Homo sapiens: one gene and its partner. The protein of the gene in region 2 interacts with the protein of the main gene of each other region in a pairwise test. Each region holds a gene or a part of one and is shown on either strand. Other genes may lie near its edges.

The links.
Region 1: the proteins of C4BPA (region 2) and LBP interact in a two-hybrid assay, tested with the Homo sapiens proteins (one large-scale study listed by BioGRID and IntAct).

Annotation. Positions count from the first base shown.
Region 1 is NC_000020.11:38,366,982-38,370,481, reverse strand, and holds part of LBP (lipopolysaccharide-binding protein precursor), read right to left. Parts: intron 1,488-3,500; coding exon 1,320-1,487; intron 1-1,319. UniProt on the Homo sapiens protein: Plays a role in the innate immune response. Binds to the lipid A moiety of bacterial lipopolysaccharides (LPS), a glycolipid present in the outer membrane of all Gram-negative bacteria.
Region 2 is NC_000001.11:207,121,233-207,124,732, forward strand, and holds part of C4BPA (C4b-binding protein alpha chain precursor), read left to right. Parts: intron 1-2,689; coding exon 2,690-2,775; intron 2,776-2,942; coding exon 2,943-3,134; intron 3,135-3,500. UniProt on the Homo sapiens protein: Controls the classical pathway of complement activation. It binds as a cofactor to C3b/C4b inactivator (C3bINA), which then hydrolyzes the complement fragment C4b.

The DNA.
Region 1 (3,500 bases), on a different chromosome or scaffold from region 2:
GTATAGAGTACCTACCCTTGGAAAGCTCTAAAAAGGATCATTTCTAGTTATCTCAGGTCAAGATTCAGCCCTAGTAACAACATTAATAAATTATTATTATTGTTTTAGAGATGGAGTCTCTGTCTGTCGCCCAGCTGGAGTGCAGTGGTGCAATCATGGCTCACTGCAGCCTCAATCTCCTGGGCTCAAGCGATCCTCCCACATCAACCCCCTGAGTAGATAGGACTACAGGTGCATGCCACCAGGCCTGGCTATTTGTTTTTTCTTTTTTGTAGCAATGGAGTCTTGCTGTGTTGCCCAGGCTGCTCTCAAACTCCTGGCCTTGTGTGATTCTCCTGCCTTGACCTCCCAAAGTGCTGAGATTACAGATGTGAGCCACCACACCCAGACAGTAAATTATATTTTAATTTAAAATATATTAATAATGACACTTTTGATAACAATAACAACAATATTAAATTGCAGATATAGCCTCTAGGAAGAATTACCCTGGTAGAGATTTGACTTGTTGATTTCAAAAGTCAAGAAACAAGAGAGCAGAGTTCTCCATCCAGGGAGCAAGGCCCCCAAAGGACCCAACATCCCTTCCCTATTAGACAGAGTCCATCAAAAAAGGAAAACTGACTCTCAATGTTTAACGCAGAGGGAATTTAATACGGGGAATTGGTTATACAAGTGATGGAATTGTTGAGAAGCTAGTAAAGAGTTGGTGAGGCCACCCAGAGATTATCCAGAGACAGGAGGCTGTATCCACCCCAGGACTAGAGGAACAAAGAGTGGAGGTGGAATTATGGAAGTCACCATGAGGAGACATAGTCACAGCCAGAGCCTCTGCCGTGGTAAAGAAAGAGGAAATAGTACTCTGGCTTCATCCTTCCTCCCCGCCATCATTCTCCTGACAGTACCTCCCATTGGTTGACCTGGGTGGAAATCAAAGTGCAAAGAAGCTTGGGAAATGTAGTCTTCCAAGGTCAAAATAGACAAATAGACAAACACCAGTATACCTTTCTCCCCACAATAGCCCAGACTCACATAGTGAGAGATACATGCATTAAACAAATACACCTGCAGACAGCTACAAAGTATCTTTGTAGTAAACGCTGAGAAGAAAGATAATGGGGTGTTACAAGAAAAAGTGGCAAGGGGCGTAAGGTAGATTGGGGGTAAGGGCCAGCAAGAAAGCCCTCTCTCGGGAAGTAATATTTAAGTTGAGACCTGGAGGAATTACCCAGGTGGTGAGTGGGGAGAAAAGCATGTGGGGAAAAGGGAAAAGCATGTGGGGAAAAGGAAACAGCATTTGCAAAGGCTCTGAACCTTACCACACTGAGCCGGAAGACAGGCTCCTTGCTGGAGCTGGGCAGGAGCACAAAGGCATCTATCTCCATATAGGGGTCCACAGACAGATTCCCAGGGCTGAAGTTCAGGAGCGGAGCAGAGGGCACTGATCCCTGGAGTTCCAGGTTCATGTTGGGGTAGAGCCTGGCTAACTGGGAGCAGAATTAGGAGATTACATCAAGAGAAGAAAATATACAAGTCTGCCAGGAGAGGCCTGAGGGAGTCAGATAAAGCTGGAAGTTGCTTTCGATTGATTTTATTTCCAACAAAATTCTCTGTGCCTTTTTCTCCTAGTGGCAAAACTGGCCATCTCTCCATGTCAGACACAGAGTCTGCACCATCTATTTCACGGCTGTGTTGTATTTCGTTATGTATGGGTCCTGCGATGGATTAAACTCTATTGGGCATCAAGTTGTCTCCAGGGTTTTGCCATTATAATGACCACCTCCTGTGAGCACCCTTGGCTATTCTTTTCAGGAAAACATTCCTAGAGGTGGAGTTGCTGGGTTGAAGGACAGCAATGCTTTCTTTTTTTGTTTTGTTTTTTGAGATGGAGTTTTGCTCTTGTCACCCAGGCTGGAGTGCAATGGTGCCATCTCAGCTCACTGCAACCTCTGCCTCTGGGGTTCAAGCGATTCTCCTTCTGCAGCCTCCCAAGTAGCTGGGATTACAGGTGTGCACCACCACACCCGGCTAATTTTGTATTTTTAGTAGAGATGGGGTTTCACCATGTTGGCCAGGCTGGTCTTGAACTCCTGACCTCAGGTGATCTGCCCGCCTCAGCCTCCCAAAGTGCTGGGATTACGGGTGTGAGCCACCGCACCTGGCCAGCAATGCTTTTAAAACTTTCGGCAGGTATTGCCAAATTGTCCTCCAGAAAAGTTGGGCCCATTTTTTCTCCCTCCCTACCTCTCCCAAGGTTTCTCCATCCCCTCATCACATTCTGCTAATTGGGCATGCTGAGGTCAGATGCCAGTGTTTTCGAAATATGACACAGCTGGATCCCACCATTTCTTTTTTAAAAAAAATATTTAATTTTCTCGTATTACTCTTTTAATATGATATTCCACAGAACATTTCTTTCTTTCTTTCTTTCTTTTTTAACTTTTCTTTCTAAAATAGAGACAGGGTTTTGCTATGTTGTCCAGGTTGGTCTTGAACTCCTGGCCTCAAGCTACCCCCCCACTTTGGCCTCCCAGAGTGCTAGGATTATAGGTGTGAGCCACCACGACCAGCCCTAGATTCCACCATTTCAAAAGTGCTCTTAATTTTCTGTGTACTAGAGATAGGTACAGAGTTTAATTTGGGGCAAGACTCTTCCTTTTTAGGAGGCTATTCGTGGAAAAACAGCACTCCCATGAACCTTTTGGTTATGTATATGTAAAACCTACATCCTCTTCTAGAAGGGAGACATTTGGAAGGCTGAGGGGGTAAAATGCTTCACTAAGAAGGTAGGCAGAGTTGCTTTTCCAAGCATTTCAGATAAGAGATAGTGAACCTGTATATACATAGAATATCATCAGAAAGATATGTAAAATCTGGTAATATTGGCAAACTTGAGATGGGAACTGGGTGGTTAGGGAATAGGAGTGGATGTGAGACTTTCCACTCTATAACCTTCTAGATCTTTTGAATGTTGAACCTTGAGAATTTATTTCCCATTCAAAAACTAACATTTTTAATAATTTTTTTTGAGACAGGGTCTCACTCTGTTGCCCAGGCTGGAGTGCAGTGGTGCAATCACAGCTCACTGCAGCCTCAACCTCGCAGCCTCAGGTGATCTTCCCACCTCAGCCTCCCCAGTGGCTGGGACTACAGCTATGTGCCGCTACGCTTGGCTAATTTTTGTATTTTTTGTAGAGATGGGGTTTCGTCATGTTGCCCAGGCTGGTCTTGAACTCCTGGACTCAAGCAATCCACCCACCTTGGCCACCCACAATGCTGGGATTACAGGCATGAGCCACCATGCCTGGCCAAAAAATAATTTTTTAAAGAACCAAGAACATGCCTGGCACCTAGGAAGCCCCCTGTAATTGTTAGCTGCTGTTCATTAGGGTACATTTTATGGACTATGCCAGCATTCCTTGGGATTCTTAGATAACACCAATAAAAGATTGGACAAGCTGTGGTCCCACAAGATATGGGGCGTGGCCTCTGTTATTTAG
Region 2 (3,500 bases):
TTTAATGATAATTAGCATATTTTGATTATTTTTCTTGTCTCATATACTTCTGTTTTATTAAAATTGCTGCTACATACATATTTTGCTACATAAAGATTCATAGCTCTTCACTGAAAATCAAAATCTTTAACATATAAAGTACCCATTGTGTGTCATTTAATAATCTTGGTTCTGATGTCCAACTTATGGGATATTAAAATTATTATCTTTGGTTTTCTTTTGAATTTGCTTGGTATAATTTTATGCTGTCTTTTATTTTTAATCTGTCTGAAACACTTTTAGGTTTGTCTCCTGTATATAACAGAGCTGAATTTTCTCCAATTAAAAGCTGTTTTTCTTTCATTAGGAGTTTACATTTATTGATGTGAGTGATACTTATAGACTTGGTTTTATCATATTATTTCATATTTTGTTATATATGTATGTGTATATTTATTTTCTATTAAAAATATATGGTGGTATTTAGGAAGGTTCAAAATTTGTTTCTAGTGGTGACCTATATACATTTAAATTTATATAATATCATTATTCCTCTTTATCTTTAGACAGTTTAAATTGGTTCCTTGTTATAAACAACAATAAACTTATCTTGTATTCTTACCCCTCCTTCACCCCTTCTATCTTCCCTACCAGTAAATTTGTATCATTTGTATTATCTTAGTGTTTATTTTGTATTTAACATTAATGTGAAATATTCATATGTGTCTATGGTTGCTTTCATTCTCAACTTTGCAAATGATCAGGCAATAAGGGAATTTATTTTACCCTCTCTTCCCTGTCTCTATTTTTTCTTAGTTATACTATTTCAGTGCTGTCTGAGCATATAACATTTATATTTCCTTCAGTCACACTTAAAATCACATTTGTTTTTTCTTAGATCTGCATGTACAATGTTTGCTACCATTTTTGTTTATTTTGGCTAAAGTTGCCATTGTCATCTCTTGGTTGGCTGTAGTTTGTCCTATGGTGGTTTCCAAAAAAAAGTCCCAAGTGAAAATTATTCTTTGAGTTCTTGCAGGTTCAGATAATATATCTGAGGCATTGATACCTAGAAGATAATGGGGCTTGATATAGTCCTTGGCTCATCCTTTCTTTTCTTGGATGTCTTATAGGTACTGCTGCACTATCTTTTGCTAGTGAATACTACTGATCTGAAATTTCTTCTCATATGGCTTGATCTTTGTTTGACTATCTAAATTATTATTCTTTATCTTTGAAACCTAATACTTTTACTCTTAGTTGTTTTGGTAGAAATCACTTGGTTTAATTTTTTGCTACTATGTGATGTGCAATTTTAATATGTAGATTGACGTATTGTTTTATTTTAGTAACATTTACTTGAAATATATATATTTTTTGAGTCAAGGTCTCACTCCCTTTGCCCAGGCTGGAGTGCAGTGGCACGATCATAGCTCACTGCAGCCTCAACTTCCTGGGCTCAAGCAATCCTCCCACCTCAGCCTCTCAAGTAGCTGGGACTACAGGAGAGCAGCACCATGCCCAGCTGATTTTTGTATTTTTAATAGAGATGGGGTTTTGTCATATTGGCCAGGCTGGTCTTGAACTCCTGGTCTCAAAGAATTCACCTGCCTCAGCGTCCCAAAGTACTGGTATTACAGGAGTAAGCCACCACACCTGGCCTGAAACAAATTTTTAAAAAGCTATTTTGTTCTACTTGGATTCCTTCTTTAGGTTATCCAATTAAGCCTATGTTGATTCTCTTTTGCTTGTTACCTATATCTATTAGTTTTCTCTTATCTTTTCCGTTTGTTTCATTTTTGTTGATTTTCTCATTTTTATCCTCTGTTTTCCTTATTGTGTATGGCTTCCATAAGGGAAAGTGAAAAGAATCAGAACTAAGATGCTGTTGAAACACTAAGGTGTTCCCATTGAAACAACCAGAAACAATATTTTGCACTTAGTCTCTGGGCTAGGTTGGAAAAACTACATTTTAAAGAAATTTTAAAGTAAAGAAATACTTAATTGTAGTTGTAGTTGAGATATATTTTCTTGAAGTTATTATTCAATAAATTCCACAGGCTCTTAGATTGCTGAAGGTGACATTTGCTTTAGTGTTCTATCACATTGTAAGTTTATTCCTTGATGATGCTACAATTTGATATCATTGATGATTATCAATATCCTTGATGATGCTACAATTTGTAATCATTCATATCTTTTGTTTTTTTCTGTTAGCATAAGATAGAGGGCAGGAAGACGAACTGAGGAAAGAGTAGGACATATCAAGAGCCGTAAAAATGGAAGTGGTGAACTGAAAGCTAATGATGTATGGGAATAAGACACCCACCTGGAAGTCAGAGGAAGCTTCAAGCCAAAGATGGGGAGATTGTGGACTCAGTAATCTAGCTGGTACTCTCACCCAGAGACAACCACAGAACACGCTGAAGCCAGCCTTTTATTGTTGTGCTTGAGCTCTGGATGAACTGCATTCCTGATCCCTAGTAGATGCTCAGTAACAGATTAAGGAATGAGGGTCCAAAGGAAAAAACACACGCATCTCATTGCAGTAATGAAATTTTACTGAATGGAGTGCTTAATGGGAAATGATATCCAAGAACATATGATTTCCTTATTTTAATATTGAGTAACAATTCTATTTGCTCAGACCTCTTTAATTTAATTTAGGGTAGGAGGAATTCCATTAAAATCTTTGATCTATCTTATTCAGATTTTTCTTAATTGGCTCAACCACTAGTCGTTGTGAAGTCCAAGATAGAGGAGTTGGCTGGAGTCATCCTCTCCCACAATGTGAAAGTAAGTAAAGACTCTTCTGACTTGACTATCAATTTAAACTCTGTTAGGTAATAAAGTCCCTGTGCATCTTTACAGGTATGTGTACCTTCCATTAGAATTTGCATGAATTTTAGATTTATCATGATGCCTTCGCTGAGTATTTCTTTCTCTTCACTCACTTACCTCAGTTGTCAAGTGTAAGCCTCCTCCAGACATCAGGAATGGAAGGCACAGCGGTGAAGAAAATTTCTACGCATACGGCTTTTCTGTCACCTACAGCTGTGACCCCCGCTTCTCACTCTTGGGCCATGCCTCCATTTCTTGCACTGTGGAGAATGAAACAATAGGTGTTTGGAGACCAAGCCCTCCTACCTGTGAAAGTAAGTCATAATGATGAATTCTGCATCAAAATGTTTGCTCTCTTTTGTTTAAAAGAGAAAGAAAGGTAAATTTATTGGGGGGCAAATGGAAAATTCAAAGATAAACTAACTATCGCTCTGATGCAATCATTTATTTGGCCACCTGATACTTATTGCATGTTTGTTTAGAATATAAAAGCCATAAAAATGGGAGTGGTGAACTGGGAGCTAACAGTATATGGGAACAAACAGCAACAACATCTCACTGGTTTGGTGAAGTAAAAGTTTATTCTCATTTACACTGAGTTTGTTCCATGTCCAGGAGACTCTCCAGGGCAGCCGTAGTCTGTGTTAGCTTAGCAACTAGCTCAGCAAGCCAGGTTGCTT